Regions from separate parts of the Homo sapiens genome. Here region 1 is linked to region 2. The links come from fine-mapping of genetic effects on gene expression. A gene starts in region 2. The other region holds a variant in brackets. All regions are shown on one strand. Distances are between the middles of the regions. Region 1 overlaps CDH23 (cadherin related 23). Region 2 holds the start of C10orf105 (chromosome 10 open reading frame 105).

The links. PIP is the estimated chance that this variant, and not a neighbour inherited with it, causes the effect.
Region 1: its variant is fine-mapped to the expression of C10orf105 in whole blood (TOPMed, PIP above 0.99).

Annotation. Positions count from the first base shown.
Region 1 is chr10:71,747,767-71,752,766 of GRCh38, reverse strand. All of the region lies in intron 38 of CDH23 (cadherin related 23), which reads right to left. VSIR (V-set immunoregulatory receptor) reads left to right here. Exons shown (of 7, transcript NM_022153.2): 6 at 906-1,099; 7 at 1,477-5,000. The coding sequence ends at 1,514. Among named protein-coding and RNA genes, the nearest start is that of VSIR, 23 kb to the left of the region's middle. RefSeq lists enhancers at 3,795-3,924, 4,125-4,174, 4,560-4,769. The variant G/T (reference allele first, on the strand shown) is at 2,170.
Region 2 is chr10:71,717,338-71,722,337 of GRCh38, reverse strand. It overlaps C10orf105 (chromosome 10 open reading frame 105), which reads left to right and starts at 2,560. Exons shown (of 2, transcript NM_001164375.3): 1 at 2,560-2,711. All of the region lies in intron 28 of CDH23 (cadherin related 23), which reads right to left. RefSeq lists an enhancer at 2,423-3,171.

The sequences.
Region 1 (5,000 bases), 30 kb before region 2:
TGTGTCATGCACCCACCTTCGGGTCTCAGTGGTCAGCCTGGGCCAGGATGGGGACAGGGAGGAAGCACTGTCTGGGGCAGACAGTGAGACATGCAAAGGAGGCCAGCGGGCCCAGCCCCAGCCACAGCCCTTGAGCTGTGCCTCCTGCCCGCAGAGAACTCCAAGGAGAAAGCTGTTAGGCCGCTGCAGGCCACAAGGGCAGAGGCTGAGGGGTCCCAGAGTGGTGCAGTGGGCTGGGTCTAGGGGCAGAGGGGATGGGGACTGTGTATTGGTGTGCTCTGGGCAGGAAGCTGCCATGCAGCCTGGCCTGGAGGGTGTGTTCAGGGAACCCAAGTTCCTGCCCCGGTACCTGCAACACCAAACACAAAGCTCCTCTAGGTGTTTGAAAGGGATGATCTTCAAGACAGGTTGAAGGAAGTCCTGCTTGCAACTCATCTAGAATCTAAGAGTTGCAGGGGTCTTCAGAAGTTATCCCACTCCCAACTGGGAAGAGAAGAGAACCCCTCCCCTCAGCTCAAGACAGGCTTTGGGGATGTTCGATCCTAATGCCATCAACTCTATTGACCAAAGAGAAACTTGTCCCCAAATTCCTGAGGCTGAAGTTCTAGAAGTGTCTGTGATTTTTGGCTTCCTGGCTGTGCCCGGGGTTGATGGTCAGACCACAGGGAGGAGCTGGGGTCTGTTCTGGTGGGCCCTGATGCCCTCAGCTCAGGACAGGTGGGCAGGTGCAGCCCATGGCCTTTGCTCTGTGGGCCTGGCTCCTGCCTTCTTGCTTGGAGATGCTGCTGAGGCTTGGGGATGGGGATGTAGGTGAGAGAAAGGGAGGAGAGAAAAACTGGGGGCAGGGAGGGCAGAGTTCACGCTCCGGACAGCACAGATGACCTTCCATTCTGGTTCTGTGGCAGCAACATTCAAGGGATTGAAAACCCCGGCTTTGAAGCCTCACCACCTGCCCAGGGGATACCCGAGGCCAAAGTCAGGCACCCCCTGTCCTATGTGGCCCAGCGGCAGCCTTCTGAGTCTGGGCGGCATCTGCTTTCGGAGCCCAGCACCCCCCTGTCTCCTCCAGGCCCCGGAGACGTCTTCTTCCCATCCCTGGGTAAGTGTTTCCTGACCTTCACAGCACGATGACCTGTAAGGTCATGACCTCATGGCCTGCAGGGCATCGGCCTCACTCCCTGCCCTCCCTGAAGAGTTCCACGGCCTCACGGGGTGGGGTTGAGGGTGAGGGACAGAGGGGCCCCCATTCACCTCCCTGAAGAGTTCCACGGCCTCACGGGGTGGGGTTGAGGGTGAGGGACAGAGGGGCCCCCATTCACCTCCCTGAAGAGTTCCACGGCCTCACGGGGTGGGGTTGAGGGTGAGGGACAGAGGGGCCCCCATTCACCTCCCTGAAGAGTTCCACGGCCTCACGGGGTGGGGTTGAGGGTGAGGGGCAGAGGGGCCCCGTTCACTTTGCTTCTCCTTTTCTTGCAGACCCTGTCCCTGACTCTCCAAACTTTGAGGTCATCTAGCCCAGCTGGGGGACAGTGGGCTGTTGTGGCTGGGTCTGGGGCAGGTGCATTTGAGCCAGGGCTGGCTCTGTGAGTGGCCTCCTTGGCCTCGGCCCTGGTTCCCTCCCTCCTGCTCTGGGCTCAGATACTGTGACATCCCAGAAGCCCAGCCCCTCAACCCCTCTGGATGCTACATGGGGATGCTGGACGGCTCAGCCCCTGTTCCAAGGATTTTGGGGTGCTGAGATTCTCCCCTAGAGACCTGAAATTCACCAGCTACAGATGCCAAATGACTTACATCTTAAGAAGTCTCAGAACGTCCAGCCCTTCAGCAGCTCTCGTTCTGAGACATGAGCCTTGGGATGTGGCAGCATCAGTGGGACAAGATGGACACTGGGCCACCCTCCCAGGCACCAGACACAGGGCACGGTGGAGAGACTTCTCCCCCGTGGCCGCCTTGGCTCCCCCGTTTTGCCCGAGGCTGCTCTTCTGTCAGACTTCCTCTTTGTACCACAGTGGCTCTGGGGCCAGGCCTGCCTGCCCACTGGCCATCGCCACCTTCCCCAGCTGCCTCCTACCAGCAGTTTCTCTGAAGATCTGTCAACAGGTTAAGTCAATCTGGGGCTTCCACTGCCTGCATTCCAGTCCCCAGAGCTTGGTGGTCCCGAAACGGGAA[G/T]TACATATTGGGGCATGGTGGCCTCCGTGAGCAAATGGTGTCTTGGGCAATCTGAGGCCAGGACAGATGTTGCCCCACCCACTGGAGATGGTGCTGAGGGAGGTGGGTGGGGCCTTCTGGGAAGGTGAGTGGAGAGGGGCACCTGCCCCCCGCCCTCCCCATCCCCTACTCCCACTGCTCAGCGCGGGCCATTGCAAGGGTGCCACACAATGTCTTGTCCACCCTGGGACACTTCTGAGTATGAAGCGGGATGCTATTAAAAACTACATGGGGAAACAGGTGCAAACCCTGGAGATGGATTGTAAGAGCCAGTTTAAATCTGCACTCTGCTGCTCCTCCCCCACCCCCACCTTCCACTCCATACAATCTGGGCCTGGTGGAGTCTTCGCTTCAGAGCCATTCGGCCAGGTGCGGGTGATGTTCCCATCTCCTGCTTGTGGGCATGCCCTGGCTTTGTTTTTATACACATAGGCAAGGTGAGTCCTCTGTGGAATTGTGATTGAAGGATTTTAAAGCAGGGGAGGAGAGTAGGGGGCATCTCTGTACACTCTGGGGGTAAAACAGGGAAGGCAGTGCCTGAGCATGGGGACAGGTGAGGTGGGGCTGGGCAGACCCCCTGTAGCGTTTAGCAGGATGGGGGCCCCAGGTACTGTGGAGAGCATAGTCCAGCCTGGGCATTTGTCTCCTAGCAGCCTACACTGGCTCTGCTGAGCTGGGCCTGGGTGCTGAAAGCCAGGATTTGGGGCTAGGCGGGAAGATGTTCGCCCAATTGCTTGGGGGGTTGGGGGGATGGAAAAGGGGAGCACCTCTAGGCTGCCTGGCAGCAGTGAGCCCTGGGCCTGTGGCTACAGCCAGGGAACCCCACCTGGACACATGGCCCTGCTTCTAAGCCCCCCAGTTAGGCCCAAAGGAATGGTCCACTGAGGGCCTCCTGCTCTGCCTGGGCTGGGCCAGGGGCTTTGAGGAGAGGGTAAACATAGGCCCGGAGATGGGGCTGACACCTCGAGTGGCCAGAATATGCCCAAACCCCGGCTTCTCCCTTGTCCCTAGGCAGAGGGGGGTCCCTTCTTTTGTTCCCTCTGGTCACCACAATGCTTGATGCCAGCTGCCATAGGAAGAGGGTGCTGGCTGGCCATGGTGGCACACACCTGTCCTCCCAGCACTTTGCAGGGCTGAGGTGGAAGGACCGCTTAAGCCCAGGTGTTCAAGGCTGCTGTGAGCTGTGTTCGAGCCACTACACTCCAGCCTGGGGACGGAGCAAAACTTTGCCTCAAAACAAATTTTAAAAAGAAAGAAAGAAGGAAAGAGGGTATGTTTTTCACAATTCATGGGGGCCTGCATGGCAGGAGTGGGGACAGGACACCTGCTGTTCCTGGAGTCGAAGGACAAGCCCACAGCCCAGATTCCGGTTCTCCCAACTCAGGAAGAGCATGCCCTGCCCTCTGGGGAGGCTGGCCTGGCCCCAGCCCTCAGCTGCTGACCTTGAGGCAGAGACAACTTCTAAGAATTTGGCTGCCAGACCCCAGGCCTGGCTGCTGCTGTGTGGAGAGGGAGGCGGCCCGCAGCAGAACAGCCACCGCACTTCCTCCTCAGCTTCCTCTGGTGCGGCCCTGCCCTCTCTTCTCTGGACCCTTTTACAACTGAACGCATCTGGGCTTCGTGGTTTCCTGTTTTCAGCGAAATTTACTCTGAGCTCCCAGTTCCATCTTCATCCATGGCCACAGGCCCTGCCTACAACGCACTAGGGACGTCCCTCCCTGCTGCTGCTGGGGAGGGGCAGGCTGCTGGAGCCGCCCTCTGAGTTGCCCGGGATGGTAGTGCCTCTGATGCCAGCCCTGGTGGCTGTGGGCTGGGGTGCATGGGAGAGCTGGGTGCGAGAACATGGCGCCTCCAGGGGGCGGGAGGAGCACTAGGGGCTGGGGCAGGAGGCTCCTGGAGCGCTGGATTCGTGGCACAGTCTGAGGCCCTGAGAGGGAAATCCATGCTTTTAAGAACTAATTCATTGTTAGGAGATCAATCAGGAATTAGGGGCCATCTTACCTATCTCCTGACATTCACAGTTTAATAGAGACTTCCTGCCTTTATTCCCTCCCAGGGAGAGGCTGAAGGAATGGAATTGAAAGCACCATTTGGAGGGTTTTGCTGACACAGCGGGGACTGCTCAGCACTCCCTAAAAACACACCATGGAGGCCACTGGTGACTGCTGGTGGGCAGGCTGGCCCTGCCTGGGGGAGTCCGTGGCGATGGGCGCTGGGGTGGAGGTGCAGGAGCCCCAGGACCTGCTTTTCAAAAGACTTCTGCCTGACCAGAGCTCCCACTACATGCAGTGGCCCAGGGCAGAGGGGCTGATACATGGCCTTTTTCAGGGGGTGCTCCTCGCGGGGTGGACTTGGGAGTGTGCAGTGGGACAGGGGGCTGCAGGGGTCCTGCCACCACCGAGCACCAACTTGGCCCCTGGGGTCCTGCCTCATGAATGAGGCCTTCCCCAGGGCTGGCCTGACTGTGCTGGGGGCTGGGTTAACGTTTTCTCAGGGAACCACAATGCACGAAAGAGGAACTGGGGTTGCTAACCAGGATGCTGGGAACAAAGGCCTCTTGAAGCCCAGCCACAGCCCAGCTGAGCATGAGGCCCAGCCCATAGACGGCACAGGCCACCTGGCCCATTCCCTGGGCATTCCCTGCTTTGCATTGCTGCTTCTCTTCACCCCATGGAGGCTATGTCACCCTAACTATCCTGGAATGTGTTGAGAGGGATTCTGAATGATCAATATAGCTTGGTGAGACAGTGCCGAGATAGATAGCCATGTCTGCCTTGGGCACGGGAGAGGGA
Region 2 (5,000 bases):
GGTATCCCAGTATTGCTACAGTACACTTCTCCTTCTGCCTAGATTATTATTATTTTTTTTGTAGAGACAGGGTCTTGCTATATTGCCCAGGCTGGTCTCGAACTCCTGAGCTCAAGCAATCCTCCCGCCTTGGCTTCCCAAAGTGGTGGGATTACAGGCATGAGCCACCATGTCTGGCCCTGCCTAAGATAATATAGAATGGATTTTCTTTCTTGCCACCCGAAGCCCTAATGTAGGCTTTCCTATCGTTGCTCACTGGACAAAACTGCAGAGAAGATGGGGATGGGTTCCTGCTAGCAAAGATCAAGAAAGCAGTGAAGGTGGGATTGGCTGAAGGTTTCCAAAGGAGGGAGCTGGGTTTGGAAGGATGGAGGAAACCTGGCTTAGCAGAGAAGGTTGGGAAGAACATTTGTGCTGGGAAACAGTGTTAGCTGAAGTAGAGGCAGCTGGGGAGGCTAAGGAAGGAACTAGGACCCCAGTCTGGAGTGAAGGGCTCATGCAGGGACAGCAGAGGGCTGTGGTTGGAAGAGTGGAATGACAGCCTCAATCAGCAGCACTGATGCCCTGGAACCTCCACAGGACAGGGAGTATAGACATGGTGGTATGAAGGCAGAGCGAGGAGCCTGTAGCAGGCGCTGGCCTCGATGCACATCCGGGCACTGCGGTAAGTGTGTCTAAGGATTCTGATGAGCATGTTGATGGTGGGGAGGAGGACGAGTACACTGGAGCAAAAAGAACAAGGGCCCTGGGTCAGGCACACCCAAGCATGAATTTAGGCTTTGTCACTTACTCTCTATGGCACTATGGATAAGTACTTTAGCCCCCTTGAGCCTCAGTTTTCTCATCTCTAGACTGGGCACAATGATGACCAGCCTTGCAGGGTTGAGGGGAAGATCAGAAGTCATCTTGCAAAGCGTCTTGGCTGGTGCCTAGCATGGGGATGTGTGGTGAAGGTCAACATGAGTGATGCCACCTTCTCCAGAGAGCCCTCTGGATTTATGCCAGAGCTGGGGATGGCTGGATTGCCCCTTGCCGTGCAGTTCTTTCTCTCTCCATTCCCTGAGAAACCTTAGGAGCTGGCAGGTGGAGGGATGTAACAGGGTGCTTCAATTGTCCAGATCTGGAAGGGCTCAGGATGGTGAAGAGAGCCACGTTGCCCAGAGCATGCCCTTGCATGCCTATCCATGGTGAGATTTCCTTGATGCCTCCCTGCTCCAGCAGCCTGCACCACCCTGGAAGCTTTGTCTTCTGTCATCTCAGGAGGAATGGGGGCCACAGATGAAGTGTTCAGTTGGTTTCAGGAGAGGAAGTTAAGGAAAATGAAGGCAGTGAATGCTGTGATGGAAGGTGCAGGAATCCCAATGGGGACTCTGGGCATTGAAAACACCTTTGGGCCGGATGCTTTGCCTACCCTGGATGCCTACTGCCTGCCCCTGCCCACCCAGCACAGGGGAAACACCAAGTCCCCCACCACTCACTTGCTGGGTGCCCCTGGGCAGGTCACACCTCTCTGGGCCTCAGTTTGGTCATCTGAGAGAAGACGGGGGCTCTTTTCTCTCAGAAGAGGAGTTAGATGACCCCTGAGGACCTCTCCAGCTTTAACAGTCCATAGGAAATCTCTTGTCCATCTTGGGGTTGGCAGACAGTGCCTCTTTTTATGGGCAAGGGCAGGAGGGAACAGCTAAAAACCAGAAACTGGGGCTCCAAAAAAGGGAATGGGTCTGAGGCTCAGGTCTTGGACAGGGCCATGACTCCTGTCTTGAGTTGCATTTCTGGGAGCTTGGAGGTCCCTGGTGGGGAAGCTGCCAAAGACTTGGGCTCCTAAGCAGGCAGCTGGTTGTCAGGGAAGCTCTGGCTTCTGGGGAGAAAGAAGGCTGGGGGAGGGAAGTGTGTGTGTGTGTGTGTGTGTGTGTGTGTTTTGGAAAGAGCCTCCAGTGGAGGTCTCCCGTGGCCCACCCGCACTGTGGGGAGCATGGCCTTGGAGGTCCGTCAGTCCTATGCTTTCTGCCCTGGGATCCCCCTGACCTTTGAAGATGCCCCTCACCCCTCGCTTCTGTAGCCAGACACCTTCAAAGGGAAGGTGCTTTTCTACAAGCTGAGGGAAAAGCCTGGAAGGAATGGGGCCCAGGGACGCTGCAGGAGGGGCCTCAGGGGCTGCCAGGGACCAGCACTCTCCCTGCTCCCCTCCTGCCATGGCTTGTAGCCCCTCTCCAGGGTAACCTGGTGGCTGGCAGGCACTGAATAGCGAACCTCTGGCTGCCGCCGACCATACCATTCAAACTTCCGACAGGGGAAGGTGAGCGCCATGGGGCCGCAGAGGCAGTAAAACCCTCCCCCTGCGTCTCCCCAGAGTCTTCCACCCCTGAGAGGGCTCCAAGGAGACAGGCTGGAGAGAGGCGGTGGGAAGGCCAGGGGGCATCCCAGAGTCTCTGGACAGCTCCCCTCTCCCTCTTCCCAACCCAGTTGCCATCCCTACTCCCTTAGCTATCCCCTCCCCCAAGGCAGGGCCCAAACTCTTCTAGACAAAGCCAGGTCCAGCTGGGGAGTGACGGGGAGGCCACTCTGCTGGCCAGGCTGACCGAGGGCTGCAGGGCACAGCAGAGCCTGGCAGGGCTGGGGTCACAGGCACTGCCCAGGGCTCCTTGGGCCTCCCTTCCACAGCTGAGAAGACCTCTCCACGGAGCTCCGGACGGCTGGGGTCTGGCTCTGAGGTCAGTGCTTGGGGGACTGCAGGAGAAGGCTTGGAGAGGGAAGTGTGGTGGAGACCCTTGCTGGGGACTCCTGGGAGAATGTGAGGGTATGCTCAGACCTAGGCAGTCCTCTGGTTCTGTAGAGAGGGGAAACAAGGCCCAGTAAGGGGTAGGGACTAGCCCGAGGCCACACAGCAGTCTTCTCTGCCCACAGCAGGTCCTGCTCTGTGGAACTCCAAGGGAAGAGGAGGGTCCTAGACTGAGCTTGCAGAGATATGTCCAGAGCAGGGCCCGCTGGTGCACCCTGGCCCCAGTGGGAAGGGAGTGGCTTCAACTGCCCTCCAGATGATTCCTGGCCTTGGTCCGGGCAAGGCATCCTCTCCCAGTACTAGCTGGCCTTTGCTGGTTGGTCAGTAGCCGGGTGTCAAGGGGCCTGGCAGCTGGACTTGCCTCGTGCTCCAGGAAGGGTGTTGTGTTGTTTTCAAGCACTTAGGAATCTCTCGTTGCCACAGGAACTACTCAGATGCTAATTACAACTCCACTTATTTTTTTTTTATTTTTTATTTTTTTGAGACAGAGTGTTGCTCTGTCGCTCAGGCTGTAGCGCAGTGGCATGATTCTAGCTCGCTGTAGCCTCAAACTTTTGGGCTCAAATGATCCTTCTGCCTCAGCCTCCTGAGTAGCTGGGGCCACAGGCACATACTACCACACCTGGCTAATTAAAAAACCTTTTTTTTTTTTCTTTCAGAAATGAAGACTCACTATGTTGCCCAGGCTGTTCTCAAACTCCTGGGCTCAAGTGATCCTCCTGCCTTGGCCTCCCAAAGTGCTGGGATTACAGGTGAGAGCCAACACGCCTGGCCTCACTTATTTTTTAAATTAAAGCAGGTCCCAAGGCCTGAAGCCTGGATCCTATTTGCTAGCCCAGTAGGGTCTCCAGATTCCTTTGAAGGCCTTGAAATAACATTAGAACTAGTAGGATTGAGGCATCTCCCATTTCAGACTGCCCTTTTCTTACTCCTGGCCAAGCATTGTCCAGGGTAGGAGAGAGGGATGGCTGATTTTCTCCCCACGGGAATGAGCGGTGGGCACACCCCATCCCTCCTCCCTGCTCAGACTCAAGGAAAGGCCAACCCATGCACAGCTGCCCAGCCAGAGTGCTCTCTAGGCCTGATGCCGCAAAGGCGGAGGCCCTGGGCAGCTAGACGGGCATCACACTTTCCAGCCAGGCACTGGGAGGGGTCGTTTTCTGCCTGGAAGTGCTGGGAGGGGTGGTGGTGGGGAATGGGTGGGAGGTGGGGTGCTCTGCATGCCCTCAGTTGGCTGGGCGCAGGGAGCCAGGAGTGAGGTCCTGCGGCTGCTGGTGAGTGCCTGGGGTAGGGACAGGAGTCCCTCGGGTGGGGAACTAGGTGGCCCACTCCCCTCCCCACTACCTGTGGCAGGGTTTCTCTGAGCGTGACCTGACATCTTTCCTCCTCCTGAGCTTCCGTGCTAGAAACTCAACTGTTATCTAAGCTGCAAGCTGGGAAGGAGGAAAATCTGCTATCCCCCACCCTCATGAAAAGGAAAGACCCCAAGGTTAAAGGGAAATCATGACTTTTTATCAGACCCCCTGGGATTGCTTGTCCACGTCAGTAGAATTTAAATATCACACATGCTGACCTGCAAGCTGGACGTCCTCTGCTTATGTGTTTGGTTTGGCCTGTGTAGTGTTTCAAATATTTGAAAATTCATTTCACATTATTTTGAAATCAAGTTTATTTGGCTTTTGCTGTGTTCTCCCCCACCCCACCTCTCTTCTTTCTTGCCTTCAACAAATTTGAATTAGCTGCCAACATTTAAACGTCTAGAATGTTTGCCTTTAAAAAAATCCAGATTTCTGGCTTCTCTTGGGAAACTGACAGAGCTGACCACACTGGGCCTGCACTCCGGCACTGACAGCACCATTCTGGGCTGAGGCCCCTCCACTTCCTTGAGAGGGCCCAGCCAGTGCTCTCCAGGTGGCCCTGCTCATCTGTACCCTCTGGTCATGTGTTATCTGCTGGCCAGGATCTGTGAGCATTTTTATTACAACCCCAGACATATTGAGCCAAAAGCTCAGCCTGGTTTTCCATCGACAAGGACCGTCTGCTGCACTGCGTCTAATGGGATGATCTTCAGTGGGAAAGGAAATGCCCTGTCAGGTGTATGATGTCCCTGGGGGGTTTCCAGCCCCCTTGTCAACTCCTTGTGGGTTTATTTCCCACCTGTTCCCAGAGCAGCTCACTGAGCTCCGAAAGGGCTGGGGGCCAGAGGGGTGGCAAGGCCATG